3 separate regions of the Homo sapiens genome follow, and all the other regions are linked to region 2. The links come from fine-mapping of genetic effects on gene expression. A gene starts in region 2. Each other region holds a variant in brackets. All regions are shown on one strand. Distances are from middle to middle. Region 1 overlaps COA1 (cytochrome c oxidase assembly factor 1). Region 2 holds the start of COA1 (cytochrome c oxidase assembly factor 1). Region 3 overlaps STK17A (serine/threonine kinase 17a).

Region 1 (10,332 bases), 50 kb after region 2:
TGTGATGGAATTTGCCACTACTGGAAATGACCATGGTGGAGAGGTTATAAGAGACACACATTTTATTTATTCTTTTCCTTTTTTTTTTTTTTTTTTAAGAGATGGGAGTCTTGTTCTGTTGCCCAGGCTGCTGGATTATAATGGTGCAATTATGAATCACTGCAGCCTCAAACTCCTGGGCTCAAGTGATCCTTCTGCCTCGGTTTCCCAAAGTATTGGCATTACAGGTGTGAGCCACTGCTCACTAACTAGTGAGCTAGTTTTCACTGCTAGAAAAACTAGCCTTGTTTTTCTTGGTAGAGAATCTCTCACTCTCTTCACTGATGGCTTCAGAGGGAGATGAATGTGAAGATAATAAAGTCTAAAGTTTCTTCAGAGCTCAGTCTGTCTCTCTGGGGTCCCATTGCCTATTTCAGATTCTGAATGGTATTTCAGGCTACCCCAAAAGTGTCAGATCTGGTCAAGAGTGTTGTTCTTATGTACTATAGAGTGTGCCACTTTTTGAGCAAGCAGTCAAGTATGGTAGTTAAGAGCATGCACTGTGAATCTTTGCTATAAGATGGTGGCGTCTTGTACTTTCCAGACATGTTATTTTCCACTTTCAACCCCTTGCTCTTTATAGCCTTCATTGAGAAGAGGGGTCTCTATCCTTTCCTCTTGAATTTGCACTGGCTCACGACTAGCCACAACTAGATTATGACCAATAGAATATGGTGAAAGTAATGCACGATGACTGAGGCTAAGTCAGAAAAGGCAGTGCAGCCTTCACCTTGTTTTCTGGGACACTTGCTTTTGGATCTCTGTGCTGCCATGTATGATGCTTGGCTATTCTGAAGCTGCAATGCTGTGAAGAAAGCTCAGGCTACAGAGAAAGGCTATATGTAGGACCCTAGTTCAGGGGTCCCCAATCCCATTCACCCACTCCCGGCCGCACAGCAGGAGGTGAGCTCTGCCTCCTGTTAGATCAGCAGCTATATTGAATTCTTATAGGAGTGCGAACCCTGTTGTGAGCTGTGCATATGAGGGATGTAGTTTGAGTGCTCCTTATGAGAATCTAATGCCTGATGATCTGAGGTGGAAGGTTTTATCCCAAAACCATCCCCCTGCCTCCTCTGTGGAAAAAAAATTACCTTTCTTGAAACTGGTCCCAGTGTCAAAATGGATGGAGACTGCTGCCCTAGTTGACAGCTCCAGTTTAGATTCTAGCCGACAGTAGCATCAACAATCGCACATGTAAGTGATTTCCTCAAATGATTCCGGTCCCATTGAGTCATCCCTAATTGTTGTGTCTTTTCAGTTGTGACCTCAAACATTGTTCCTTACCTTTGTGTTTGCTCTAAATTACTGACCCACAGAATTCATGCGTATGATAAAACTGTTTTTTCAAGTTGCATTTTGGTGACTTTCTTATGCAGCAAGAATAAAAACTTTGGCAAATTCTTGACTTTTGTGTCCCCTAGTTTCCAATCTTTAAAATGGTGATAATAATAGTACTTCTTCAGAGAAATGAGTTAGTATGTGTAAAGCACTTAAAACAGTACCTGGCACATAGTAAAGGTACTAAATTTGAACTACTTACTGAGAGAAATTCATTAGACTATTAAATGTTTTTTTTTTGAGACAGAGTCTCGCTCTGTCGCCCAGGCTGGAGTGCAGTGGCGCAATCTTGACTCACTGCAAACTTCACCTCCCAGGTTCATGCCATTCTCCTGCCTCAGACTCCCGAGTAGCTGGGACTACAGGTGCCTGCCACCATGCCTGGCTAACTTTTTGTATTTTTTTAGTAGAGATGAGGTTTCACCGTGTTAGCCAGGATGGTCTTGATCTCCTGACCTCGTGATCCACCTGCCTCGGCCACCCAAAGTGCTGCGATTACAGGCGTGAGCCACTGTGCCTGGCCAACTACTAAATGTTTTTGGGAGCATAGTTATGTTAAAAATAGTGAGCTCAGGGTTACTTTACTAATGAAATGATCATTATGATATGTAAAAAGGAAAAAAAACACAACTATATGACTTTTCTTAATTTGAAGTTATTTTCCACATTTGAGGAGTTAACGATTCTGATAATTGTTCTCAAGAGTATCAGTTGGTGGCTGGGCATGGTGGTTCATGCCTGTAATCCTAGCACTTTGGGAGGCCGAAGCTGGCAGATCACTTGAGGTCAGGAATTTGAGACCAGCCTGGCCAACATGGTGAAACCCCATCTCTACTAAAAACCCCATCTCTACAAAAATTAGCCAGGCGTGGCGGTGGGCACCTGTAAACCCAGCTATTCAGGAGGCTGAGGCACAAGATCACTAGAATTTGGGAGGCAGAGGTTGCAGTGAGCCAAGATCGTGCCATTGCACTCCAGCCTGGGCGACAGAGCAAGACTGTGTCTCAAAAACAAACAAACAAAAAACCCCAAAAAACAAACTATCAGCTTGTATAGGTAGGCTGTCTCCTCAAAATAACCTTGGCTTTCCTTGCTTGCCTGTTTATAGCTACCTATGAATTAAATGCTTTTGAAATGCATTTGTCATTTCCTTGATTATCTAGAATGACAAATTCTGTGTTTACTCGATAGAGTAGAACTTTAAAAAAAATCATCCTAAAATGTCATGTTCAAACTTTAAGTGATGTGGAGAAGAAATCAGTGTTTATATCATTATGTATAAAATCATTATAGACATTTATACTTTTCAGATGTTTACAATAATTATGTCTCAATTTTCATCTTTCTGTTGTGAAAGAATTCGGATTACTTCACTTTCTGTAATAGTACCTGTCACCGTGACATTTTAGTTGACCATGTTCAAACAGAGATCAATATCAACTTCTTTGTTTAAAAAATGTACCTATTGAAAAATATTTACTTTAGGCTAGCCATGTATGATATGCTTTCTTCCAGTTTCTCATTAAAATATGCGTATAGTTCCATAATGGCATTGAGAAAAGTAGTGATCAATAATTTCTCAGTTTTAAAGTTGTTTCTACTAACTACTTACTACATTGGAGTAGACTAAGAAAGTCTTAGTGGTCTGTTTATGGTTTGACTTCTAAAACAGGAGATTAACGTGGGAAGTGGGTAGGAAGAGGCTTTGATCTATTCCTGTTGTTCATACCTTGGAGACATGGGTTACCATGAATGACTATGGGAACTTGCACTATTTCGTTCATATTATGTATTTTATTACATATTAAAAGCCCATTAACCTCCTTAGAGATTTTTCTCTCTCCCAACTCTTCCAAACCCGCACGTTCCACACTATTTTTTATACATCTATTCAGAGACTAAATTTCCAATGTGCAATATGGAAGAGAATGAAAAGAAGGTGTTAGGATATTACATTCCAGGGATGTGATGTAGCAGTAGATGTGGTGTTAAGAAGAACCTTAAAAGGAGTGTGCTTTTGGGTTTTCAGGTTATCATTTATTTTCTGTTAAAAGACAAACTACAGAATGTTCCTGTTGATGTAGGAATGAATTCTCATAATATGAGAAGAAAGGAATAATAGATTTTAAATCAGCCCAACTTGGTTGTACTGCCTGCTTAGTACTATAAATTCAGCCATGGACTGTGTGTGTCAGCCTGTACACTTAAAACCTAACCAAATTAAGTGTGAGCAAATTTTCACCATCCACATTGATAGTGATGGGAATCAAGGGCAGTCTACAATACCCTGCCATTAAAAATTGTACCTTATTTTTGCAAGGATGATTTTCATGGGGACTATGAAAGAAATCTGTGTGAAAGATATCTCCGTAAAAGAAGGGAACCATTTCCCCAAAGATGCGGAAGAAAATCTTAAAAATAATATTGAATATGATTTATTACGATGTACAAAAGATATTTGTGAGAAGTGTCAGATTTTATTCTTAGTAACAGAGCAAAAAATATGACCTCTAGGAAACCAAAACAAAG[T/A]TATAACAAAAAATCAGAATGAGATTTTAAAAGGAGCTGGAATAAAGATGACCAAAAGAAAACAGTGACAACAATCTAAAAATGCAATAGCCAAAATCTGTAATGGCAGTTGCACATAGCAGAGCTGATCCTGCAGAAAATGGAGTCAATCCTATATACGATGAATGGGTCAATCCTATAGTATTTATTTGAGATTTTTTTAGGAGGAGAAAAAAATGACAGAAATGATGAGGGTAAAAATGACAGATACTGAAGACAGAGAAGTGCCATACTGATGAATAAGTTCCTAATGGAGAAACCAGAATAAATGGAACAGAAGCAAAATATAAAAGCAGAAGGAAACTTTCTTGAGCTGAAAAGTACCCCCCTCCCCAGAGACAGGGTCTCACTATATTGCCCAGGCTGGAGTGTAATGGGGCAATCTTTGCTCACTGCAACCTCTGCTTCCTGGGCTTAAACCATCTTCCCATCTCAGCCTCCCGAGTAGCTGCAACTACAGGCACACGCCACCATACTTGGCTAATTCTTTTGTATTTTTTGTAGAGATGGGGTTTTGCCATGTTGCCCAGGCTGGTCTCGAACTCCTGGGCTCAAGTGATTCTCCTGCCTCTGCCCCTCACAGTGCTGGGATTACAGGTGTGAGCCACCATGGCCCAGCCACTTCAGCTGAAAAGTTCTGAAGCTGTAGTTCCACAGCGTAGGCTTATTGTAGGCAAAATTAATGAAAATAAATCTCTGTCTGTCTCAATTCTGGTAGCATTTATAATTTTTGGAGATAAAGGGAAAAACTCATAGATTTAAAAACACATAGGCTACTCTAATGATATAGAAGTCAGTCTTACTTCATTGCAGATTTCTTTTTATTTATCCTGCAATGCATTCATTTGGCTTCTTAAATCTATGATTTGGTAATTAGTTCTGGAAAAAGCCACTAACTGATAAAGTGTTTCTTTTCTCTATTCAGTTTTTGAAACTTTAATTAAAGACGTTTTGGGCCCTCTTTTATACCCTTTACATTTCTTATGCTCTCCTCCCTACTTACTTTTTTTTTTTTTTTTTTTGTCTCCCTGTCCCAAATTCTGTATGGTAACTTCCAAGTGTGTGCTGGTGAAATGGCTCTCCGGGGAAAAAGAAGCCCTGATTTGTAGCATTTGTTGATTTCCATAGTATAAATATCCTTATCAAGGGTAGTTTCAGGCAACCAATTTGACTTTACTGATGCAGAATTAGGAAGAGCTACACATAATTGGTTCTTGAAAGCTTATTCAAACTACTTCCAGCATATCTCTAGACTTGTCTTTTGTCTTTCCATTATTTATTATCTCTGAAGGTGAATCTAATCTGTTAAACCTTTCCATTCAGTTCTTAGTTGGAGTTATATTTTATTTTTAGTTCTAGAGTCTCTATTTTTTCTTTTAGAAATCTGTTACTATTTATAGTGTTTAGTTCTCTGCTAAATGTTTCCAACCTGTCATTTTATTTCTTCTGTCACAGAAAACACATAGAATCTGCATCTGATAATCCACTTTCTAAGGTTCTTTCCTGACCCCTTTTCCTTTCTGCTGCTTCTTATTCCTACATTTCTTGCATACTCCACTATCCTTGACTGGGGCCTGGATATTGCATTTGAAGAATTATTTATAAGACTGATTTTAAGTCCACAGCGTAGGTACTTAGACAGTGTGCACTTGTGTCTGACCGAAACTTGGGAGTATTCTAGTCCAGGGGATGATTACAGACCCAAGTTTGAAGTTTGAGAAAAGCAGTGTGATGTTAGACCATAATCTAGTTCATGTCATTCTCACTGTGAGGATGTGCCCCTTTAGGATTCCAGTTTATTGTGAGGAGAATCTCAGATTAGATGGCCCTTGTTGTGTGGCCCTCAGCTTTATTTCTATCTTGGTCACCCTGAGAATCTTTTAAAACATAGGTTCTAGTTTCCCATGACCAATAAAGATACTTTAGAGGAAATGTGGTTTCAGAACTTGCTTTTCATGCTGAGTTTTCATTCTCCTTGTACTTTTTTTTTTGTGGTAAAATATAACATAAAATTTAGCATTTTTTTTTTTTTTTTTTTTTTGCAATGGAGTTTAGCTCTTGCCCAGGCTGGAGCACAGTGCTGCGATCCCGGCTCACTGCAACCTCCGCCTCCCGAGTTCAAGTGATTCTCCTGCCTCAGCCTCCCCAGTAGCTGGGACTACAGGCGCACGCCACCATGCCCAGCTAATTTTTTGTATGGGGTTTCACCATGTTGGCCAGGCTGGTCTCGACCTCCTGACCTCAAGTAATCAACCCGCCTTGGCCTTCAGAAGTGTTGGGATTACAGGCGTGAGCCACCACGCCTGGCCCTCAAGATACTTATAAATTTTCCTTTTGATTTTTCTTTGACTTAAAGGTGGAATTGGTGGATCATATGGTAATTCTGTGTTTAATTTTTTGAGGAACTGCCATATTTTCCACAGCAGCTGCACCATGTTATATTCTCACCAGTAATGCCATAATGGTTACAGTTTCTCCACATTCTAGCCAACATTTGTTATTTTCTATTTTTTTTTAAATAATTGCCATTCTAATGGGTGTGAAGTAGTGGTGTCTTATTGTGGTTTTGATTTGTGTTTTTCTGATGATGTTGAGCATCTTTTCATATGCCTATTGGCCATTTCATATCTTCTTTGAAAAAACATCTGTTCAAATCCTCTTCCCATTTTTGAATTTGCCTATTTTTTGTTGTTGAATTTTAGGAGTTCTTTATATATTCTATATAGTAGTCCATTATCAGATGTGTGAGTTGCAAATATTTTTTCCAGTACTGTGGGTTGCCTTTTAACTCTGTTGATAGTGTTTTCAGTTTCGATGTAGTCCAGTTTTGTCTATTTTGTTCTTTTGCTGCTTGTGCTTTTGATATCATATCCAAGTAATCATTGCCAAATCAAATGTGACAGAACTTTCCCCATATGTTTTCTTCTAAGAGTGTTATACTTTTAGCCCTAATGTTTATGTATTTGATCCATTTTGAGTTAATTTTTGTGTATGTTGTAAGCTAAGGGTCCAACTTCATACTTTTGCATGTGGATATTTATTTTCCCAGTGTTATTTGTTGAATTCTCTTTTTAGTTTTTACTTGGTAATTTCTTACTATCTTGTAATTTTTCAGTTCTTTTGAAAAGATGTTTTAAAATACTTTATACAAATTACTAAGTTGTTTTCAACAGGAAGGTTCATCTCTCAAACCCAACTCACTGTTATTAGTAATAGGAAAAATTTAGTGTTTCAAATCAACTTGATGAGAACACATGTGCTACCTGAATCCTCTAGGAGGGAAATTGCCTGTAGTCAGTGTTGTTAGTTTTTAAATACTGTTTGGTTGCAATTTTCATGGGAAAAAGGTACAGCTCATTAGCACATATCTGTATCTATATATGTATATATTTTGTATAACTAAATTCAGTAGGCTGAATTTCATCTTAGATTATAAACCTTTTTAAGTATTAAAAGACTTGTTAGAGGAGCAAATTACAATTTTTTTTTTTTTTTTTTTTTTTTTAAGACAGAGCCTCCCTTTCTCACCCAGGCTAGAGTGCAGTGGTATATGATCTTGGCTCACTGCAACCTCCTTCTCCTAGATTCAAGCGATTCTCTTGCCTCAGCCTCCTGAGTAGCTGAGATTACAGGCATGCACCACCACACCCAGCTAATTTTTGTATTTTTAGTAGAGGTGGGGTTTCACCATGTTGGCCAGGCTGATTTCGAACTCCTGACTTCAGGTGATCCACCCTTCTTGGCCTCCCAAAGTGCTGGGATTACAGGCGTGAGCCACTGAGCCCAGCTACAGAACAAAGATACAATTTTTTGTCAAGGATATGGGAATCATTAAAGCATTCCTGTTTCTCTCTTTTATTTGGCAAACCTCTGTTTTATTATCCCAAAACTTACTAAATAATAATTTTTCCTTTTTTGGTCATTAAATAAGTTCATACACCACATATATTAAATAAACGGTGTTAGAGTTTGTCCTTCCTTTTATGTTGTTAACTGAAATGGGTTTCTTTCCCAGATGTTTTAAAAGAGCATTTGTTGAGGAATAATGTAGTTTTTAAAGACTCCACAGTTTCTTTACCAATGCTGTAAAAGTTATGTTTAGAAAGAATTGAGTATTTTTCTCTATAGTATTTCCATGAACTTTCTTCTAATATTCAACATGAGAAATCTGAAAATGCTTACAAGAAAAACATATAGAAAGCAAAGAATTCTTAAGGCCAAGAAAGTGGAACATTAAGCATTTTGATCTGTTAGGCATCGTACAAAGGATGAAGAGACCCACCCCAAGGGGACTTAACAGTTGGCAAGGACAACCATAGTATCATAAATAAATTAAGCTAGAAAAAATACTAATGCATACTGTACCTCTATTATTTTAAGAGTGTAGAGCTTTCTTACACAATTCTTAGTGATAAATTCTCTTTGCTACCATTGACCATATAGTTTAAAATTTTCAGTTATTTTTTTCAGCCAACTTTGGATGTGTTCTGAAGTTTTTTTTTTTAAATTGACACATATTAATTGTACATATTTATGGGGTACAATGTGATATTTTGATACATGTGTACAATGTGTAATGATCAAGCCATGGTAATTAGCATATCCATCATCTAAAACACATCATTTCTTTTTGTTGGGAACATTCAGTATCCTCTTTTTTGCTGTTTGAAACTATATATTATGTTACCTATAATCATCCTACTGTGCTTTAGAACACTAGAACACTAGAATCTTCTGTTCTACTTTTTACTTATATGAGATCAACTTTTTTTAGCTTCTGCACATGAGTGAAGATGTGGTGGTGAACTTTCTGTCCTAGCCTATTGCACTTAATGTCTTCTAGTTCCATCTGTGTTGCTGTGAATGACAGGATTTCATTCTTTTTTTGTGGCTGAATAGTATTCTATTGCGTATATATACCACATTTTCTTTACCCATTATTCTGTTGTTGGACACTAGGTTGATTCCATATCTTGGCTATTGTGAATAGTGCTGCAGTAAACCTTATTTCTTTTTATTGTTTGTAAGTTTTTCACCCAGTAGGAAATCTGTAAGGCTTAGGTCTTCTATTTAAAATGTCACCTATTTAATCATGTTTAATTAGGTTGATGGAGGGGCAACTTTCCTATTTTTAAAATTTTGAAAACAAAGTGGATACTAATCGTACTTTCTTAAAATGGTATGCTGCTAACATTTTAAATTTAATGTTTTAAGTTGTATTTCTTTTACGAGATTTCTTTATTAGTAGCTACTTTGTTTATGAGGGAGCAGGGATAGGATTCCCATAAGTGAGAATAAGAAGCAGTTATCACCGATGGGTAGTAATTTTTAGGGGTCTGTTAAGGGTCTCTTAATATTAAAGGAATCAGAATAATACCATAATTCTTTTATTTAAATAGTACAAGTGAGCCATTGATTAACATCTGGCTTAGATGTTAATCTAGTGTTAGAATTAGATGTTAGATGTTAGAATTCAGTATAGGATCCCTTGATAAGATTTTTTAATGTAAGTTCTCTTGAACCAGTAGCACCTTTTTTCCCTTCAAAGTGTAATCTTGACATCTCTCTACAATTCAGAGTAGTGAATGGTCCTCAGGTGTTTAGCAGGTAATTTGTTACATGTAAAAATTAAAGTTTGTAATTAATATACCTCTATGCTACAAATTAGGGTGGATTTACACTTACTCTTTTTTTATTTTATTATTATTATACTTTAAGTTTTAGGGTACATGTGCACAATGTGCAGGTTTGTTACATATGTATACATGTGCCATGTTGGTGTGCTGCACCCATTAACTCGTCATTTAGCATTAGGTATATCTCCTAATGCTATCCCTCCCCCCTGCCCCCACCCCACAACAGTCCCTGGTGTGTGATGTTCCCCTTCCTGTGTGATGTTCCCCTTCCTGTGTCCATGTGTTCTCATTGTTCAATTCCCACCTATGAGTGAGAACACACGATGTTTGGTTTTTTGTTCTTGGGATAGTTTGCTGAGAATGATGGTTTCCAGTTTCATCCATGTCCCTACAAAGGACATGAAGTCTTCATTTTTTATGGCTGCATAGTATTCCATGGTGTATATGTGCCACATTTTCTTAATCCAGTCTATCGTTGTTGGACATTTGGGTTGGTTCCAAGTCTTTGCTATTGCTTGAAATAGTTTTGACATGTTTCCTTGAGCAGAGGAGAAAGTGATGGTGTTACAGTGAGTGCACTTATTTATTCTATAGCCTGACAGAGTATTTGTGATTGTAAATGTCATCTGTTTGTGTTGGGGAAGAACAAAAAATGAAGGGCTACTCCTGTGTTCAGGGTTTCTAAGAAAAACACAAAGTGTAATATCTGTTGAAAACAAACTTGGATGATGACTTTTAACCTTTAAAATTA
Region 2 (10,332 bases):
TTCTTTCATTCCTGATATTGGTAATTTGTGTTCTCTCTCTCTTTCTTTTGACTGATCAGTTTAGCTACAGGTTTACCAATTTTATTGGTCTTGTGGGCGGAGGATCACCTAGGTGACAAGGCAAGAGACTAAAGGCACAAACTGTTTCAGTATAATAAAGAAAACAGTTAGAATAAGAATAGTCATAATACAAATTAGATATAGAGATGATCATGGACAATTATCAATCATTATTATAAACATTATTAATCATTAGCTTTTAATATTATTCTTTGTTGCATTACTAATATAACCTAGGAATAACCAGCGGGTATACGCTCAGGTGCTGAAGGGACATTGTGAGAAGTGACCTAGAAGGCAAGAGGTGAGCCCTCTGTCACGCCTGCATAATGGCCGCTTGAGGGTTCCTTGGTCAAGCGGTAATGCCAGTGTCTGGGAAGGCACCTGTTACTTAGCAGACTGTGAAAGGGAGTCTCCTTTCCTTGGAGGAGTCAGGGAACACTCTGCTCCACCAGCTTCTTGTGGAAGGCTGGATATTATCCAGGCCTGCCCGCAGTCATCCGGAGGCCTAAACCCCTCCCTGTGGTGCTGTGTTTCAACGGTCATGCTCCTTGTCTACTTTGATGTTCCTCCCATACTCCTGGTTCCTCTTTGAAGTTCGTAGTAGATAGCAGTAGAAGAAATAGTGAAAGTCTTAAAGTCTTTGATCTTTCTTATAAGTGCATAGAAGAAAACGCTGACGTATGCTGCCTTCTCTCTCTCTCTGCTTTGGCTACCTAAGAGGGAAGGGCCCCCTGTCCTATGATCATGTGACTTGCTTCACGTTGTCAACCACTTAGAAGATTCACCCTCCTTACCCTGCCCCCTTGTCTTGTATGCAATAAATATCAGCGAGCCCAGCCGTTCAGGGCCACTACCGGTCTCCGCATCTTGATGGTAGTGGTCCCCCGGGCCCAGCTGCTTTCTCTTTATCTCTTTGTCTTGTGTCTTTATTTATTACAATCTCTTGTCTCCGCACATGGGGAGAACACCCGCTAAGCCCCGTAGGGCTAGACCCTACAGGTCTTTTAAAAAAACCAGCTTTTTTAGCTGGGTGCAGTGTTGAGTGCCTGTAATCCCCAGCTACTCCAAAGACTGAGGTGGGAGGATTGCTTGAGCCCAGAAGTTTGTGACCAGCCTAGGAAACATAGCAAGACTTCATCTCAAAAATAAATAAACTGAAAAAAGAACTAGCTCTTTTACTTAATTGATTTCCAAAATTATCTTTATTATTTCATTTTCTATTATTTTTAATTTTCCCCCCAATTTCTTAAAGTGGAAGCTAAAATAATTTAACTTATACTTTTTCTTTTCTTATATTTTTATTCCTTATATTAAGAATGCAATGCTATAATTTTCCTCTCTAAAGCACTACTTTAACTGCATTCAATGCCTTTTGATATATATTTTTATTTTTATTCACTTCAAAATACGCCTGTTTCCTTTACCATTACTTCTTTGACCCATGAGTCAAAATGTATACTTAATTTCAAAAGAAGTGTGTTACTTAATTTCAAAATATTTGTGTTTTCCAGATATCTGTTACTAATTTATAATTATGGTAAGACAAAAAACTTTATACAATTTCAATGTATTTAAGTTTATCAATGTTTATGAACTGGCATAAAAATATTCTACACACTTAAAAGGTGCATTTAGCTATTTATGGAGTGTTCTATAAATATTAAACAGGTCAAGTTGGTTAATAGTGTTGCTCCAGTTTTTTATGCACTTACTGATTTTTTGGTCTAGTTTTTCTATTAATTGCTGAGAGATGAATGTTAAAATCTCCACTACAATTTTCAATTTTTCTTTTCTTTTTTCTTCTTTTTTTTAGATGGAGTCTCACTCTGTCACCCAGGCTGGAGTGCAGTGCTGCAATCTCGGCTCACTGCAACCTCTACCTCCTGGGTTCAAGCAATTCTCCTGCCTCAGCCTCCTGAGTAGCTGGGATTACAGGTGCACGCCATCATGCCAGGCCGATTTTTGTATTTTTAGAAGAGACAGGGTTTCACCCTGTTGGTCAGGCTGGTCTTGAACTCCTGACCTCGCGATCCGTCCACCTTGGCCTCTCAAAGTGCTGGGACTACAGGTGTGAACCACCGCACCCAGCCTACAATTTCCAATTTTTTGAATTGTCCTGTCAGTCTTTGCTTCACATTTATTGAAGCTCTGCTATTAGTTCCAAACAATTTTTTTTATTTTGAGACGGAGTCTCGCTCTGTTGCCCAGGCTGGAGTGCAGTGGCACGATCTCGGCTCACTGCAACCTCTGCCTCCCAGGTTCAAGCGATTCTACTGCCTCAGCCTCCTGAGTAGATGGGATTACAGATGCGCACCACGACGCCTGGCCAATTTTTGTATTTTTAGTAGAGATGGGGTTTCACTATGTTGGTCACACTGGTCTCGAACTCCTGACCTCGTGATCCGCCTGCCTTAGCCTCCCACAGTGCTGGGATTACAGGCGTGAGCCACTGCGCCTGGCCAGATTCATACAAATTTAAGACTGTTATATCTTCTTGATGATCTAACCCAATTATTATAAAATGTCCTTTATTTTTTGCAATCAGCATATTTGAACAGCTACAATTTCCTATAACAAAATTATAGGAGGTGCACATTATTTCCTATAACAAACATGTAGAGCATGTGCTTGGAGTACATGTAAAAGCAAACACAAAAGCAAAAAACAAAAAACATGTAGAGCAAGCATTAACTTTACATTAAACAGGACATATTGTAAGAGATAAATAACTTTTTCAGGGTTAAAAATCAGGATATCACAGGTGAATTTCTTGTAAACAAACTAGGCAGGACTGAATTTCATGCTGGTAGTAAGATAAGCAAGAAAGGACATTCATACCAACCTAGCTAATGTTAATTTTCTCAGTGTCTTTGAGGTAAATACTGTCTAACTTTTACTTATTTTTATGACAGGACATTATGGCACGCTCAATGCTTTGTTTTCTCAAAGCTCTTATGCCAAAATTTTCTTCTTTCTCTCAATAGGTGGATAGTTCCTTAACATGATAAAAGATGTCTACTTCAGTCCTTAAAACCAGCATCATGCTTAATGGGAAAATTCTAAAGATATCTCATTAAAGATAGGAATAAGACATAAAAGTCTACTGTCATTATTATTATTAAATATTTTACTGGAGATACTAGCCAAAACAATTAGATATGAGAAAGTAGAGGTATAAAACTTGGAAAGAAGTAGGTAAAACTATTTCAATGATAAGATTGCAATCTTAGAAATTCTACCAGAATGAACTCCAAACAATAAAGCAACTTAGTAAGGCAGTGGATCACAATATTAATATGCAGGAAATGATACTTTCATGTATACATACAACTACGATGTGTAGTAACCTCATTCAGATTTGATAGTTATAGGATCCTGCTGCTCTTGAGTGAATCTCAAAGCAGCCATTTAACCACTTAACAGTAGCCCTCATACAGCATTATAGTCAGCCCCTCCTCTCTTCACCTCCTACCCCTTCCCTGGCTCCTTAGTTTAAAAGTATCAAAACAGACCCTTTCTTTAAATATATAGAAAAAGAGAGGTAGAATGTGTATTTTGATGGGTAATTTTGGCTATAAGAAACAGAATCCCTGACTTAAGGTGAGTTAATAATAACTAAAATTTATTAAGCACTTAAAATACTTACAATATGACCAGCACTATTTTAACCCATTTAATCTTTATGGCATCTCTATCAGAAAACAGTAAGGATCCCAGCACTCTGGGAGGCCAAGGTGGGTGGATCACTGAGGTCAGGAGTTCAAGAGAAGCCTGGCCAACATGGTGAAACCCCTTCTCTACTAAAAATACAAAAATTAGCCAGGCGTGGCAGTGCATGCCTGTAGTTACAGCTACTTGGGAGGCTGAAGCAGGAGAATTGCTTGAACCCGGGAGGCAGAGGTTGCAGTGAGCTGAGATCATGCCACTGCATTCCTGCCTGGGCGACAGAGTGAGACTCAGTCTCAGAAAAACAGAAAACAAAAACAATAAGGAAACTTATTAGACATTCCTACAAGGCATTCAGATACAGGGTGAGCTCCAGGTTTGGAATGATGTCACCAAGGACATTGTTTTATAACTTGTTCAGTTGTCCTCAGCATTGGTCCATCAGTTTTATTCCTTGTGATGGGCAAGATGGCTACTAATGACAGTGTGGGATAGATGTTTCGACGTCAAGAGGACAGTATATCAGAAACTTTCTCCTGAGCATGAAATAGAGGTCCTTTCCTTCAGTCAGATTGCGCCAACCTGGGTCATATACTCGTTCCTTGATTAGCAACTATTTCCAAAAAAATTCTGTGTGAAGACTGGTTTAATCAGTATCATTTTGATTCTGGGAACAGGGCAGCTATCTGAATAAAATAAGGATTTTGGTACAAAGGAGTTAGAGGAAAATGAATATTGGATAGGTAACATTATTCACTATAGAGTTTTGTTTTTAATGTAAAATTTAGACGACAAAAAAATTCTGTGTGATGACTGGTTTAATCAGTATCATTTTGATTCTGGGAACAGGGCAGCTATCTGAATAAAATAAGGATTTTGGTACAAAGGAGTTAGAGGAAAATGAATATTGGATAGGTAACATTATTCACTATAGAGTTTTGTTTTTAATGTAAAATTTAGACGAAAACTTTAGCAGATTTAAGTCCAGTGATAGAAATGTTAAGTTCTGAGTTTTCAAGCAAATGGTCAGAAAAGCCTATTTAATGTTTTATTACTTACAAAGTAAACATATTTCTCTTTCTGGTACAGAACGGGAGCTAATTGATCTCGGGTTCATTTTCATGAACGTTGTATGAAATGCACATATACCAAACCTCATAAGCTTTTTATTAGTTGATTTATTCTTTGAAATATTAAGCTTGGTGTAAGGTATTATAACCTCAATCTCTTTGAAAATGTAATAAGTCAATAATCAATGTTGCATCAATGAATATTACTCAGTGGATGCCTATTTTATTTCTTCTTTTTCTCTAAGAACCATTTAAATAGTCCTTATGGCCGAGCACTTCACAATCTGATTAGTTTCTATTAATTCTTTGGAAAAGAAACATTCTGGGAAGTCAGAATTCAGCGGTAGGTTGCTTTGATAATGTGCTCATTTAGCTAGTGGATTCCAGAGTGATAGAATGTATGTTTGGCAACCTAATTGTTGTGGAGGAAGAAAAGAACTTCTGTTAGAAGTTTTTAAAAAAGTTTAAAAATTGTTTTTACCTCATCAAAAGTTTGATGTCTTGTGAGTTTTATAGCATGCATAATATATTAATGCCATACATGACACATGTAAATATATATATATTTTTTCTGATAGGGATGTGTGAGCAAGAGTTTAAAGAAGAATGCCCCAGTCTAAAGTTAATTAGTCTTGGAGTGATGGCTTCGCAGAGGAAAGATACTGGATTTCAAGCTTGACATTAAGGTGATAATAGTGGTGACTATGGAATAATCAATATAAAAATAATAACAGCTAACAGTTACTGAGCGCCTACAAACTGCCAGACACTACTCTAAGTGCTTCACATCCTCATAACAAATTTATGAGGTAAATGCTATTATTATCCACCAGCCTTCTGAAATTTTCTTACCCCGTTACTCCCTGGTGTTAACTGGGTACTTAATTTGTCGAATAAAATAAAATTTAGTGCTGCCAAATTTGTCAGCTGAACGGGGCGGCAGGAATTTCAGTGCTAGAGTGGGGGGCCAGACGGCCCGGGGCTTCGTGTCCTTGGAGGCCAGCGGAAGCGCCGCATACCTGTGAGGAGCAACGTGAGCCGGTGGCTTATATTTCCTGGGCTAGTGCTACTGGACTGAATGCATTTGCAATAACCGGACGCAGAAAAAAAAAAAAAAAGCGGGGACCAGGGGAGGCGAAACCCTTCCCGGCGCGAGTCCGAGCGTCTGAGAAGCAGAAGCCACACGTCCCGGCGACCTAAGTTCTGGATCAGCCGGCCGGAGGACCCGTGTTAGCATTTACAATCCGAGGTGAGCTGAAGCCTCCGGTTGTCCCGGTTCGACGCTCTAGCCCTGCGAGCAGCCGACGCCGGAAGTCTCTACTGCTCCCCGCTGGCGCGCAGGACCGCGGGCATTTACCCGTGCTTTCCCAAGCCTGGAAGAACTCGTCATGCTCTTTGTAGCGTGGTGCTTCTGTTGCTCACAGGTTAGTCTCCCGCGGTATAAGAGTCTCCGTCTTCCCCCCAGCAAGAAGCGTTTGTTCCTGCAATTCGGGGGGCCGCCTTTGCGCGCGGGGTGCGCTGCTTCTTGGAGAGTTCCCTCACGGGTCACATCGCGGAGGTTCGCGCCGGCGCCGGGTCGCGGCCTCCCTGCGCAGCTTCTTTGGCACCTGGTAACCTTCAGTGGCTCCGTCCGCTCGGAGTTAGGAGGCTGTGTCGAGCTAACCTTGACCTTGTCCTGCAGTTTTTGCTGACCATCCCCAACAGCACACTGTAAAGAGTTAGGGTCCTCTCGAAGAGTTGGGACTGGGCACTTTTGTTGGTAGTGCTAAATTTCAACACCCTGAGGAGTACGCTGCCCAAATTATTGTAGGAAAGAATTACCTGGTTTAGTGGTTATAATACTTTTTGTCCCCACCACACTTGAATAACAGAAAAACCCTCCCAACAGGGGCTGACTGCAAAAGTGATTTTCTGTGTAGGGGACATTGGATGTATTTATGTATATATCAGTGCCTATCAGTCTGTATGTGTGTTTGGGGGTGGATGCTGTGTAATTTAAAAAAATCTATGGAGATTCTGATAATTTGATAACCTGTTTCTCCGGTCTTCCCCTGATTCCTCCCCATTCTCCCCGGAGGGCTATTGCTTTATTTCTGAGGTGGCTCACGTTTGGATAGAAGTAGCAACTCTCCGCTTACACCTGCACGTTTAAAACGCATATCAGATTGTGTTATTTCTGTCCTCAGAATCTTCCTGGCCTTCCCGTTGCTTTCAGGATAATACACATTTCTTAGCCTAACTTCAAGGGCCTACAGGGTCTTGATTCTGCTGAGTTTTTCAGTCTTTGCTACTTTCATGGAAAACACACCTGCAGGTACACTCATATTATGCTCCCACCATGCCAGTCTACGGTAATTTAATAACTTTAGATATGGCAAAGTTTTATATGGTTTACTCAAGTTTTAATTTTTGTTCTAGCATTTAGCCAAAATCGATTGAATTCATAATATTGCTAGGCACTGTTTTAAAAACGGGATAAAATGAAAACAAAACAAAACACAAAACAAAAGTCTTCAGTCCTTTAAAAAAATAAAACAGCTTCCTGACACATAGTTCACCTACCGTAGAGTTCACCATTTAAAACGTAGCGGTGCCTCACGCCTGTAATCCCAGCACTTTGGGAGGCCGAGGCGGGTGGATCACGAGGTCAGGAGATCAAGACCGTCCTGGCTAACACGGTGAAACCCCGTCTCCACTAAAAATACAAAAAATTAGCCGGGCGTGGTGGCGGGAGCCTGTAGTCCCAGCTACTTGGGAGGCTGAGGCAGGAGGATGGTGTGAACCCGGGAGGTGGAGCTTGCAGTGAGCCGAGATTGCGCCACTGCACTCCAGCCTGGGCGAGAGAGCTAGACTCCATCTCAAAAAAAAAAAAAAAGAAAGAAAACCTAAAAGTAATTAGTACATTAGTACATTCACAAAGTTGTACAACCATCATCATAAAATATGCTGTAATCTTCTTCACCTTCATTAGTTGGTTTAATTTTCTATTTCAGACAGACTCCAATAAGTTATTCTTGTATTCTTTTGTTCATGTTTAATATGCTGCATTCAGTTTGTGAGAGCCATATTGGAACAATTGAACATTTTCATCACTCCAAAAGGAAACCCTGTACTTATTCAGCAGGCTCACCTGACTTCCCCATCCCCACTCCCCATTCTAAGCCCTAAGCAACTATGAATTGACTGACTGTATATTTGACTATTCTGGATTATTCATGTGAGTGAAATCATACAGCATGTGGTCTTTTTCAACTGGCTTCTTTTACTTAACATTCATGTTCATCTGTGTTGTATTTAATAGCATGTGTCAGTACTTTTTTTTATTGCTGGTTAATCTTTTATGGGTATTACCACGATTTATTTTCCATTAGTTAGTGGACGTTTGGATTGTTTCCACCTTTTGGCCATTATGTGTAATGCTGCTGTGAACATTCACCTACAAGTTTTTGTGTGGACATCATGTTTTCATTTCTCTTGCGTATGTGCCTAGGAGTGAAATGGCTGGGTCATATGGTAGCTCTGTTTAACATTTTAAGAAATGGTCAGACTGTTTTCCAAAGCATCAGTGTGCATCTTTTTAACATTCGCACCAGTAGTGTATTAGGGTTTTGATTTCTCACTCCTTGCCAACACTTGTCATTATCTGTCTTTCTGATTCTAGCCATTCCAGTGGGTGTGAAGTGTGTGTCATTGTGTTTTCATTCTTTTTCGTTGACATGTAATAATTGTACATATTTAGGGACTACAGAGTGATATTTTGATAAATGTATACAATGTGTAGTGATCAAATCAGGTAATTAGTATGTCCACCACCTGAAACGTTCATCTTTTCTTTGTGTTGCGACCATTAAAAATCTCCTAACTTTTTGAAAATATTATGGTTTCAAATCGTATTTCCCTGATGGCTAATGATGTTGAGCATCTTTTCAAGTGCTTATTGCCCATTTATTTATCTTCTTTGGAGAAATGTGTACTCAGATCCTCTGCCCATTTTTAAATTAGGTTCTTTTTTGTAATTGAGTTGCAAGAGTTCTTTATATATTCTAGATACAAGTCATTTATCAGATATGTGATAGTCTTTTAGATTATGCTACCGTTCTTTTAAATGAAAAGCACATGAGATTAATTTTTTGTAGCCCTGGAGACCTCCTTATGGGTATGTGGCTGTGGTTTAGAGAGTGATGGTTTTCCAACAACTACGTGGGAGGCCAGGCCCAGGAAAAATGCTGTGAAAGAACCCGTGAGGAGCATTTTAAGACTTGAAAAATGAAGCAAGGAAAAACTTTATAATTTGCCATTCCGTATGGAGTTTTGTCTTTATTGATTTTTAGGAGTTCTTTGTGTAGGGATTTAAGCCATTGACTGTTAGATATGTGGCAGATATTTTCAATCTATTTAGTTAACTTTGTTTTATATTTTTTACTATATTGTTTTACATTTTTGTGTAGTCAGGACTTTGCCTCTAAAAGCCTTCTGGCTAATAGTTTAGGATATTGTTCTTTAATTATAGGAGTTATAGAAACTGACATAGTAGTTCCCAGTTAGTGTGACATCTGAGTCCCTGGTGGTATATTTAGCCTAAGAGTGTTCATTGTTTCAGACATTGTTGCCTCCCTGTCTCTCTGCCTTGAAAAATGTGCCATGATCTGCTTCAACTTTGTTCATTTAACTCTCTATTTTAAACAGACTCCAAGAAGTTATTCTTTTATCCTCTTGTTCATGTTTCATATGCTGCATTAGATTTGTGAGAGCCATATTGGACAGTTGGTCACCAAATAGTAGGTACTTTTTTCATACTAGCAGGCATTTATTTGAAGATTATTTAATGTATGCAGAGGTTGAGTGTAGCTATTGTGTTCTGTATTGTTTGGGGCATGTTGGAAAAAGTAGTTTTATAAAATCCTATTAACATTGTTTTGTATTTTTTTAATTTTGTTGGTTAAAAGGCAGTAGTAGTAATATATATAGTATATATATAATATATATATTTTTTGAGATGGAGTTTCGCTCTTGGTACCCAGGCTGGAGTGCAATGGTGCGATCTCGGCTTACTGCAACCTCCGCCTCCTGGGTTCAAGTGATTCTCCTGCCCCAGCCTCCTGAGTAGCTGAGATTACAGGTGACTGCCACCATGCCCAGCTAATTTTTTTGTTTTATAGTAGAGACGGGGTTTCACCATGCTGGCTAGGTTGGTCTGGAACTCCTGACCTCAGGTGATCCACCGCCTCGGCCTCCTAAAGTGCTGGGGTTATAGGCATGAGCCATTGCGCCCAGCCAGTAGTAAAAGTATTTTTAGAAACTGAGCATTTTGAGAATCTAAGGAAAGTGATATACAATAGCTTCCAGAAAAAAATTGCATCTCTCTGTTTACATATAATGGCCAAGATTTCATTCTTTCCCCTTGGCTTGATTCCAGTTAGAACTGTGTGTTTCTTGTTTCAGTGTTTTGTCTTTTCTTTTTTAAAATTGTGATAGAATATACATAACATAAAATTGGCCATTTTAACTATTTGTAAAGATACAGTTCAGTGCC
Region 3 (10,332 bases), 110 kb after region 2:
AAAAGGAATGAAAATGTTCTATTTCTATGAAAAAACGAAATACTCAAGGTCATGTATCTACTACTCATTTGTGACAAACCCCCATAGAATAAATGAGTGGGAGGAAGAGGTTGGAAAGGAAATGCGAGGTATGCTAATCTCCTAAATTTTGATTTCTGAAATGGTTGAGTGAGAAACAGAGGTTGTGAATGTTAAAGTTTCAAAAGAAGTGACTAGGAAATTAAAAATGAAATGCATAGCATCCAAATTACCGGGGAAGAAACAGTAAAACAGACCACATAGCAAGACTGTGGGAGGAAGGGTACAGGAAATACCAATAGCTTACTTTTTTGAGTGCTTATTATGTGCTGAATACTGGTTTAAGGGCTTTGTACAGCAAATCCAATGAAATCCTTACAAATTCCCTATGAGGTCGGTACTATTACTAGCCCCTTTTTATGGACAGAGGAATCTGAGGTATAAAGAGATTTAAGGGCCAAGGTCACATAGATGGCAAGTACAGGGCCAGAACTCACACCAGTTTCTGTGTGTATGTAAAATGACTGTGGGAGGCATAAACTCACCTTTTAAAAGGTGAGTCACGGAAGGAAAAAGAGGAGAGTCCCTTTGTTTTTCTGTATTATGTACTTTTGAATCATTTTTAGTTTTTTTCTTTTTGGATTGAGCTTGTACTTCCATTATAATGTTTTGAGATGGGGAAAGGCTCTTGATAGAAAATTTAAAATTTACTAAGGAACAGAAAGCTCTAAAACAAATCACTAGCCTGGGCAACACAGTGAGACCCATCTTTACCAAAAAAACAAACAAAAAACTGGCCCGCTGTGCTGGCACGTGCCTGTGGTCCCAGCTACTCGGGAGGCTGAGGCAGGAGGAGCTCAAGTTGGGAGCTGCAGGAAGCTATGATGGTGCCACTGCATTCCAGCCTGGGTGGCAGAGTGAGACTCTCTCAAACAACAACAAAGAAAGCATTAAAACAAAACAAAAACCCACCTCATTCAGGGCAATAATTACTATTTTGATTTTTCAGCTCACAGACCTACATTCTGCAGTCTTGTGTATTTGAGCTTACAATGGTACCCATTAAATTTGGCTAAAACACTTGGGTTGCTGTTTTCCCTAAAGAAACACTATTAAGTCACATCCCCAAAACTAACTTAGTGGTCATGACGCATATTAGTCAGTGTACTGAAAATTAAGTATTCTGGCCCATTAAAATATATAAAAAATTTTAAAGGTTGTTTCTGTGCCTGTGGCATCTTTTATTATCTAATTAACTAAGGATCTTTTAAAAAATCTCTGAATTATTTTTTGAACTATCATTGCCATACAGGTTTGTTTTCTTCAACCCTATCGGCCCTCCTGAGTCTTTCTGTGCTCCGGATAGCTCTTTTCTTGTAACATCCTCAGTCCTTCAAGAACTACACACTCCTTTTACCCTCTTCTCTGAAAGGAGACCCTGCTCTCTTCATTCCCCCTCTTCTAGCCTGTATTTGCTCACTTCACACTTCTACCCTCAGGCACAGAGTCTTCCCTCAGGCCCAGGCCACAGCCTTCTCCATTCCTGCCACGGCCGCCCTCCTCTTCTCCCAGGTCTGCTGGCAGCCTAGGTGACTTCCACACTGATGTCCATGACCCAGACAGCCTACCTTCACAGCTTCTTGATTTCCTGGTCTAAAAAACTGCCTTTCCAGCCTTATATCCAAGGCCTCATAATTACAAAGAGCTATTTCACCACTGAAATTTTAAATATTAATATTCTTTTTTTTTTTTTTGAGACGGAGTCTCACTCTGTCGCCCAGGCTGGAGTGCAGTGGCACGATCTTGGCTCACTGCAAGCTCCGCCTCCCAGGTTCACGCCATTCTCCTGCCTCAGCCTCCCGAGTAGCTGGGACTACAAGTGCACACCATCACGCCTGGCTAATTTTTGTATTTTTAGTAGAGACGGGTTTTGCCATGTTGGCCAGGCTGGTCTCAGATTCCTGGCCTCAAGTGATCTGCCCACCTTGGCCTCCCAAAGTGCTGGGATTACAGGCGTGAGCCACTGCACTTGGCCTAAATATTAATAATCTAATCTCTGGTCACAACCTCTCAGTTTCACAGCCTTATTCTACAGATACCTTAAAAAGACCATCAAACTATTAATCTTTCAAACTCCAATTTTCCTCAGTCTATCAAAGAAAGTAATAGTTGACTTCTTTGATGATACGCCTACACCCATGGAGTATCATCATTCAGCTGCTTTCTTGCTGCTACCTTCAATGTTTAAGCTCCTTTTTCTTTCTGCCAGAAGCACTCAACCATGGATCCAACCAAATGCCCTCTCTGCTCCACACTTCTATGGAGCCTCAGACTTGGCAATTCCTTTGTCAATGTTTGTTATCAACCAGAACATCCTTAAAGGTCCTTACTTGTTAAATATCCTCCCACCCTCAGATAAGCTAATATCCTACTTTGTTAAGAAAATCCTCTCCTATTCCTTTTAGAAGTAATCCCTTCAAATTCTCTTAGCTCTGTAGTGAAGAGATAGTGAAGAGATCACCAATTTGGTATCTTACTCTTGAACGTTTTCCATTGTAAAATGTAATCCAAAGGAATAGATCTCTGATGGTAGAATTTCAACATAGTAGATAGCTGGCTCCACTATGAGTCATGCCACATGGACAAGTCCCCTAATGAAGGTGATGCCTGACCCCAGAACAAAACTACTTTTATGAATACTTACCCACATATTCAGGGGTACCCATAATTTCTCGGAGCTCTTCACTGTTCTTCAATATTCTTGAAAGGCCAAAATCAACAATCTTAATGTCACCCAATGGAGATTCACTTGTCAACAGAATATTCTGAGGCTAAAAGAAAATACACCCCCGCAAAAATCAATATAACTATGATTAAGTACACAAAACATGCAGCCCATAAAACATATTTCACCTATGAAACTGAGACTGAGGAATTTAACAGTAAACAGTCATTTGTTAAAGAAATATTTTTACAATTTATTGCCTATGTATAAGGCAGCAGGCCTGTACTCTCTTGTATTTTCAATCTCTTCCCCTACTCTGGCTCTTCCTCAGCATATAAATATGTTTCTATCCCTACCTTATGGAAACCATTCCCCATGATCCTGAATCTCCTTGCATGCAGCACGCTTGCTCCTACTATTCCCTCAAAGCTCAGCTTCTTGAAAGCATGGTCAAGCACAATTGGTATTGTTTTCTCAGTGCAACTAAATCTCTTCTGACCCCTTGACTGAATCTGCCTTCATTAAGGTCACAATAACTTCAATAATCAAAGACCCACCAAATCCCGTCTGTGTCTTTCAGGGACTATTTTGCATGCAATGATTTCTGTAGCACTGGGCACTGTCAAGCATCCTTGTATTGTTGAAATTCCTCCCCATTTTCTCCACCTTGGGTCTCTTCCTTCTTCTACAGATCCCTCACAATTTTCTCAATGTTTTCCTTCTGTCCTCCTTTTAAATATTTGTGTTGTTCAGGATCTCTCGCTGCATGGCCCTCTTCTCCCACCACTCTGCATTCTATTTTGGAGCGATTTCATCTACTTCCAAAGCTTCAGCTGCCACTTACATACTGATGACTTCTACCCTAAGTTCTCTCTGGACTTGTGAGTGGGGATATGTGGGGTGAGGACATGTACAGTAATGGGAAAGAGCTCCCCAGAGCCACAGAATCAGTGAGGTTCATATCCATGGAGTCATTTTTACCCAGTGGAAAATAACCTAAGATACTTTCACATAAAAAGACAAGCAAATATATTATGGACTAGAATGTAAAATTCATTAAATTTTTAAAACACGAAATTTGAAAGGAAAGTTTGTGCTTGCATTATAAAGGGTCCTCACTTAATGTTTTCTGCCATTAAGAATATTTCCAAAGGTAAGCTGAGAAACACTGGTAAATTACAAATACTTCACTCTAACACCCAGTGTTTTAAGATTGGGCCCCTGCTTCCTTTTCAAGATTAATCTGTCACGGCTCCAAAGGCAATCTGTGCTCCAAATCAAACAGTCTGTAATCCCTAAATAACACAGCTACTCCCACATCTCATGCCTTTACACACGTACTGCCTTTGTTCAGGACGCCCTCTCCCCTTTTCTGCCTGACAGATTTATTCTCATCCCTCATTCCATGCATGATGGGTCTCAATAAAGAACCAATTCCTCTGTAAAGCCTGCCCTGGCCTCCCCTGCTCCTTCCAGGGAGGGCTTAATGGCTGCCCCGTCCCTGCTCCACAGCATGGTGTACACAGCATGCTTACTCTATTGTTCTGTTAGCTGTTTGTTTCTGTCTCCATCACATTGGTCCTCTAGATGTATAGAATGAATGTTCACATTTCCTTTCCTTCCATTCATATTCTGCCCCTCCATCTGACTTCTGTCCTCTCATTCCACTACAAATCACAAAATCCAGTGATATTCTTCAATGCTTTTTTCTGGACCCCTCCCTTAGCAGTGTTTGACAAAGTTAACCACTCCTTCCTTGTTTATATGTTATCTTTCTCTTGGCTCCCATGACAAAACACTGTCCTGGCTTTCTTCCTATCTCTGGCTGTGTCTTCCATCTCCTCTGATGGGCCACCTTCTTTTACCTGGTCCACTGGATGCTGGGTTTCTCAAGGCTTGATCTTGAGGCCTTTCCTCTTTTTACTCCAAACTCTCAGCTTGCATGATCTGCACCCAAGGCTTAAATATCACCTACACCTTAAGACTCACAATGTTTTTCTCTCTTTCAGACCTCTTCAACCAGCTGCTTACCTATTATCTCCCCTTTGATGTCTCAAAGGTACCTCAAATTCAACATGACCAAAAACAGACTCCTATTTTCCTTCCTAAATCATATTCTCCCTATGCCAATGACAGGCGTCTCAGTGAATGCTATGATCATCCCTCAGAATAGGAGAGAACACTAACAATCATCTTGGCCATTCCTTTCCTCCCCGCTCTTCCATTTAGCTAACATGTCACCATAGTTGATTTTAAATACTAAATTCCAAGCATTTCTAGACTTTGCCTATTTCTCTCCATCTACGGAAAATTAAAGCTACCTTTCTTGCTCTATTGCAATGGCCTCTTCAAAGGTTTGCTAGGATCTGTTTTGCCCACATTGAAGCCAGAAGGTTCTTTTGTATTATATAAATTGGATCTGTTGTCCCCTTTCCTAAACCCTTCCACAGCCTCCCATTGCTCTTAGGTAACCTCCAAACTCCTTCGCATGGTGTGCATGTCCTGAGGTCCAGCTTCTGCCTAACTAGCTCTCCAGACTCATCATATGCCATGATCCCCCGGCTCCATGAAGCTGGGTCCCACGGGACACTTTCCAGTCTCATACTTGCCATGCTCCCTCTCACAAGAGTGAATTTGTATATGGTATTCCCTCAGTCTAGAACGCTTTTTTCTGTTCTTCTTTGCCTAGTCTCAACTTGGTGAGAAGGCCTAAGATGGTAGTGAAGCAGATTACAACAATTTCCATAGATGAGAGGGGCTACAATATGAAAAACGAAATTGAGGCATAGATGGTCCCTC[C/T]TTTTTTGAGACGGAGTCTCACTCTTTTGCCCAGGCTGGAGTGCAGTGGCGCGATCTCGGCTTACTGCAAGCTCCACCTCCCAGGTTCAGGCCATTCTCCTGCCTCAGCCTCCCGAGTAGCTGGGACTACAGGAGCCCGCCACCACGCCCGGCTAATTTTTTGTATTTTTAGTAGAGACGGGGTTTCACCGTGTTAGCCAGGATGGTCTCGATCTCCTGACCTCGTGATCCGCCCGTCTCAGCCTCCCAAAGTGCTGGGATTACAGGCGTGAGCCACCGCGCCCGGCCAGACGGTCCCTCTTTTTAAAAAGGGTCTTACCTTCTATCCAACCATCCTTCCTACCCTTTTCTATTATGAAAATGCCCGTAGGTTTATCAGTCTGAATTCAGAGAACGGGAAGAATCTACAGCTTCATGAGGACAGAAGCCACAGTACTGATTACTCTTTTGTCACTGTGATCAGTGCCTACCACACATTTATATTTGTTGGGTGAATGAATGGAAGAAACATAACTATAAAAAAATTAACAGGGTGTCTATTTTGTGTTAGGACTAGTGGTAGTATAAATATTAGCAATAAGAACGCCCTACTGTCAGAGTTTATAATCAAGAGAAAATAGATGAACCTGCCAGGCTCAAGTCACTCTTCTGTGAATTGCACCATGAAAGCAATATATACAAAGTGCTCAGGCGATAAATATATCAGAGTGATTAATTCTGCCCTGGAAAATTACAGAGGAGATATGTGAGCAGACCCTGAAGGGTAAAAAGATTTCCTCATTTTTTCAACAAATATTTATTGATTGCCTAATGAGCTAGGCCCTGGGGAAATAACAGAAAACAAGACACCAGTCCTCTCTTTTGGAGCCCTGCATCTTAAGACAAATAAGTACACCTCAGGTCGCTTTAAGCACTATGGGGAACTCAAAGCAGGGTGATGGGCGAGAGTGGTTGCTTGGGGTGTGTGCATGGGCATGTTATCTTTAGGGGAGTCAGAGAAGGCCTCTCTAAGAAGGCAACCTGAGGGAGGAGAGGACAATGTTAAAAAAGAGCCAGTCACAGCTCAGTGTCCTGGAGGGGTTGGAGTAAGCAGGAAGCATTCCAGGCAGAGGGAAGAGAAGTATAGAGGCCGTACTGCTGTGGAGCATCTGCAGGAAATCCTGTGTGGCTGGACGACAGCACAAGGCAAAAGGGGTACGAGTGGTGGGAGGCATGAGGTTGGAAAGGAAATGGCTAGGAGATCACAGGGCTTTGTAGGCTATTCTGGAGTAAATGGCAGAAGGCAGGCCACGTTTTCTTTGTTAATTAGCTTCTAGCTAATTCTTCACGAAAAAAACACCTATGTACCATCATGACTATGAGTCCTCAGACTTTTCAAGGCAATTTTAGTTTTCGTATGTTAATAAAATACTATAGTACAACAAAAGGGCTGGGCGCAGTGGCTCACATCTGTAATTCCAGCAATTTGGGAGGCCGAGGTGAGTGGATTGTTTGAGCTTAGGAGTTCGAGACCAGCCTGGGCAACATGATGAAAACCTGTCTCCACCAAAAATACAAAAAATTAGCCAGGCATGGTGGTGTACACCTGTAGTCCCAGCTACTTGGGAGGCCGAGGTGGGAGGATCACTTGAGCCTGGGAGGCAGAGGTTGCAGTGAGCCGAGATAGTGCCACTGCACTCCAATCTGGGTAACAGAATACGACCCTATCAAAAACAAACAAACAAACAAAAAACAAAACAAAAACTATAGTAACCACAAAATGTCTTATTATTCAGGCAAATTTGATAGGAGGGCTTTGGTTCAGTGATACATATTCATAATTGAATGTTTTGCCCTTTTGAGTACACGCAAAATGCCAGGTGAAATACTGCTAGGGAAAATCTTCACCAAATCTTGAGATTTTCTTGTGATTAGTAAACATGTACATTCTATGAATGTTCTTAAATACCATTTGTTCCCTTAAAATAGTTTAAATGTTTTTCCCTTTTATGTATTTACACTTTATATTCCCTGAGAAATGCTTTCTTTAGTTACTATGCAAAAACTAATTGGTTTGGTGGTAATGTTGTAAATCCTAAATCAGTGTGATCAAATTATTAAAATCTTATTGTATGAGAAGTCTAGGCCCTGTTACATGCATCTATGATACACCAATGTGAGAGACTTTCTAAAAATGAAGTTAAACAACTGAGAGAGAGGTTGCTAGAATAAACACATTTCTCATAAAATCAGAGCTATTTCATGGGATTTCAGTTAATATTTATTATGTGGCCTTTACCAACTAACTGTGCCCAATTTTGACCACAGGGCTATTTTTAAAAATAGACTTTGCTTCTCTAAATAAAATATATATACAATTACAGGACTATAAGCTCTGTTAGTTCTTCGATGGTGAAATATATCTACTTCCAATAAGCCGAAATACATGTCCTGAAAACAAAGCTAAGTACCTCAGCATTTACAATTTAGTTAAACTTCCTTTCTAGGGAATCCAGTTCATTATAAAGAAGTTGTGGCACACAAAATCTAGTTCTATTTAAAATATATGAATCCCAGGTAGTAAGGGAGAGAAAGAAGCAAGGTCAATCAATAGAGAGGTGATAACAGTGGAATAGGCAGAAAACCTGCAGACGGTCCGTAAATAGATGGTGGCTGTAGGGAAGTCTTTTATTTATCTCGGTATCTTCATCTTTGTACATAATCCATTTAACGTTTACTGAACAATCACCACTGGAGAAGATTTGGCGGCTAAGATCATTGTAAAGTTGAGGTTAACCTGCTCAATAAGGCTTAGGGTGTCATGGGCAGGGTTTTAAGGAACATTTTATCAGACAATTAAAGTTCTAGTATATTAACTATTAAAACCCAGGTTAGAGTAGAGAAATAGGTTAATAATCCCATCTAAATTAATTTGGGGGACTGTTTAGGAATGTTTTTATTACCCCTGCTTTCAAGTAATATACTGATGCTCAAATTTAAATCTCATATGGAAAGTCCCAGCTTCTGGCTACTTTTTTTGAAATTAATTTTTAGAAATTAATGTTTTAATAAAAAAGTTTTTGAGACAGGATCTCACTCTGTTCCCCAGGCTGGAATGCAGGGTGCAATCATAGCCCACTGCAGCCTCGAACTCCTGAGCTCAGGCAATCCTCCCACCTCAGCTTCCTCTGTAGCTGGGACTAAAGGCGCGTGCCACCATGGCTGGCTGATTTTTTTAATTTTTTGTGGAGATGAGGTCTCACTATGTTGCCTGGGCTGGTCTCAAACTCCTGGGCTCATGTGGTCCTTCTACCTCAGCCTCCCAAAGTGCTGGGATTACAGGTGTGAGCCACCACACCTGGCCTTCTTCTAGTCTACTTTTAACCATGAGCATAACTGGGTGGAAAAGTTAGTGATAGAATCCTAGTATAGTTGTCCCATGGTATCAGTGGGGATTGGTTCAGGGACTCCTTGCAGATACCAAAATCTGTGATGCTCAAGTTCCTGATAGGAAATGGTACAGTATTTGCATATAACCTAAGCACATCCTCCTGTAAACTTTAAATCATCTCTAGGTTACTCAGAATAGCTATTATAATACCACACATCACCTCATTTGTGTGGATTCAATGAAATACTTGGTGGGGGGCCAATTCAAGTTTAGCTTTTTGGAACTTTGTGGAATTTTTGCACCCTGAATATTTTCAACCTGTGGTTGGTTGAATCCATGGATGCAGAGGGCTGACTGTACTAACACTGCTGAAAGACTGAACCAGTACAACACCATTTGAAGAAAAAAGAGCAATAGATTTTAAGACCAGATTTCTTTGTGCTATTTTTAGTCAGTCCTCCCTCCCTCTGACAGGACTAAAACCAGGCCGCTGTACTGAATGACTAATTCACCAAATTATTGAGACTGTTTGGGTACTTTTAGTTGGTTTTGTTCTGACTTTGCCAGGGTTGTTGTTTCTCAGATTTGCAATTTCTGCAACATTTTATATATTAAACGAATGGGTTTTCTCTTAATCATGGCTTGTCTTTTCTATTTTTGTGGCTGTATGGACTCATACTTTTACAGACTCCTAAATCTGCATCTGCTACTCCCTCCCCCACCCCAAGAACTTTCCCAGCTCTATTTAAGATATTTGGCTGACAGTCTTCAGTGAATCAGTCTTTTGGCAAATTGATCATTCAGGCTCTGCACCAAAGCTAAGCAGTGTATTTCCCATAGCGTCAATTATATCCTTAATAGAAGCAACTATAACAGTTGTTTTAACTTCCAACTAACTTCTGTCACAGGGACAGGAGTTTCCCATTTTAACCAGCATGGAGACTAAATAGCCTAATAATTCAAAATTACCATACATATTGGGATTATCAGTTTTTAGAGAATGAAAACATAATATATTTAGCTTTGAGGCAATGTGGGAAAATAATTTCTTAAAAAATAGCCTAGTCTTTCAAACGCTTCTAGAGACCAAGAGTCAACATTATGAGCACACACTGTCGAAGACAGAGGACAGCAGACTCACTTCATCCAGACTCACAGAGGCCAATTGGAAATGACCTTTTAGTAGAAATCACTCCCGCATGCATGGTTGCCATACCAACCCCATCTCTATCCTCTCCCTCCAGTAGTTGACTCAGAGACATGTCTGACTGCACATGGAGGGGCATGAAGGCAGAAGGAAGGCTGAGAACCCTTTGGACCACTTTGTCTTCTAGTTCCTCTGGGTCGAGGAAACATGGAGAGTCCAGTTTCCAACATCAAAGGCCTGTCATCGTCATCAAGGCCTCTACTGAATCTGGAA

What was found. PIP is the estimated chance that this variant, and not a neighbour inherited with it, causes the effect.
Region 1: its variant is fine-mapped to the expression of COA1 in whole blood (INTERVAL, PIP 0.99).
Region 3: its variant is fine-mapped to the expression of COA1 in blood mononuclear cells (TOPMed, PIP above 0.99).

The regions. Positions count from the first base shown.
Region 1 is chr7:43,674,919-43,685,250 of GRCh38, reverse strand. All of the region lies in intron 1 of COA1 (cytochrome c oxidase assembly factor 1), which reads left to right. Among named protein-coding and RNA genes, the nearest start is that of COA1, 49 kb to the left of the region's middle. The variant T/A (reference allele first, on the strand shown) is at 3,907.
Region 2 is chr7:43,725,320-43,735,651 of GRCh38, reverse strand. COA1 (cytochrome c oxidase assembly factor 1) reads left to right here and starts at 6,129. Exons shown (of 6, transcript NM_018224.4): 1 at 6,129-6,223. RefSeq lists enhancers at 1-23, 529-608, 5,819-6,018, 5,385-6,113, 6,114-6,843.
Region 3 is chr7:43,612,114-43,622,445 of GRCh38, reverse strand. STK17A (serine/threonine kinase 17a) reads right to left here. Exons shown (of 7, transcript NM_004760.3): 4 at 2,723-2,849. It also overlaps a transcript of COA1 not described here. Among named protein-coding and RNA genes, the nearest start is that of STK17A, 34 kb to the right of the region's middle. The variant C/T (reference allele first, on the strand shown) is at 5,543.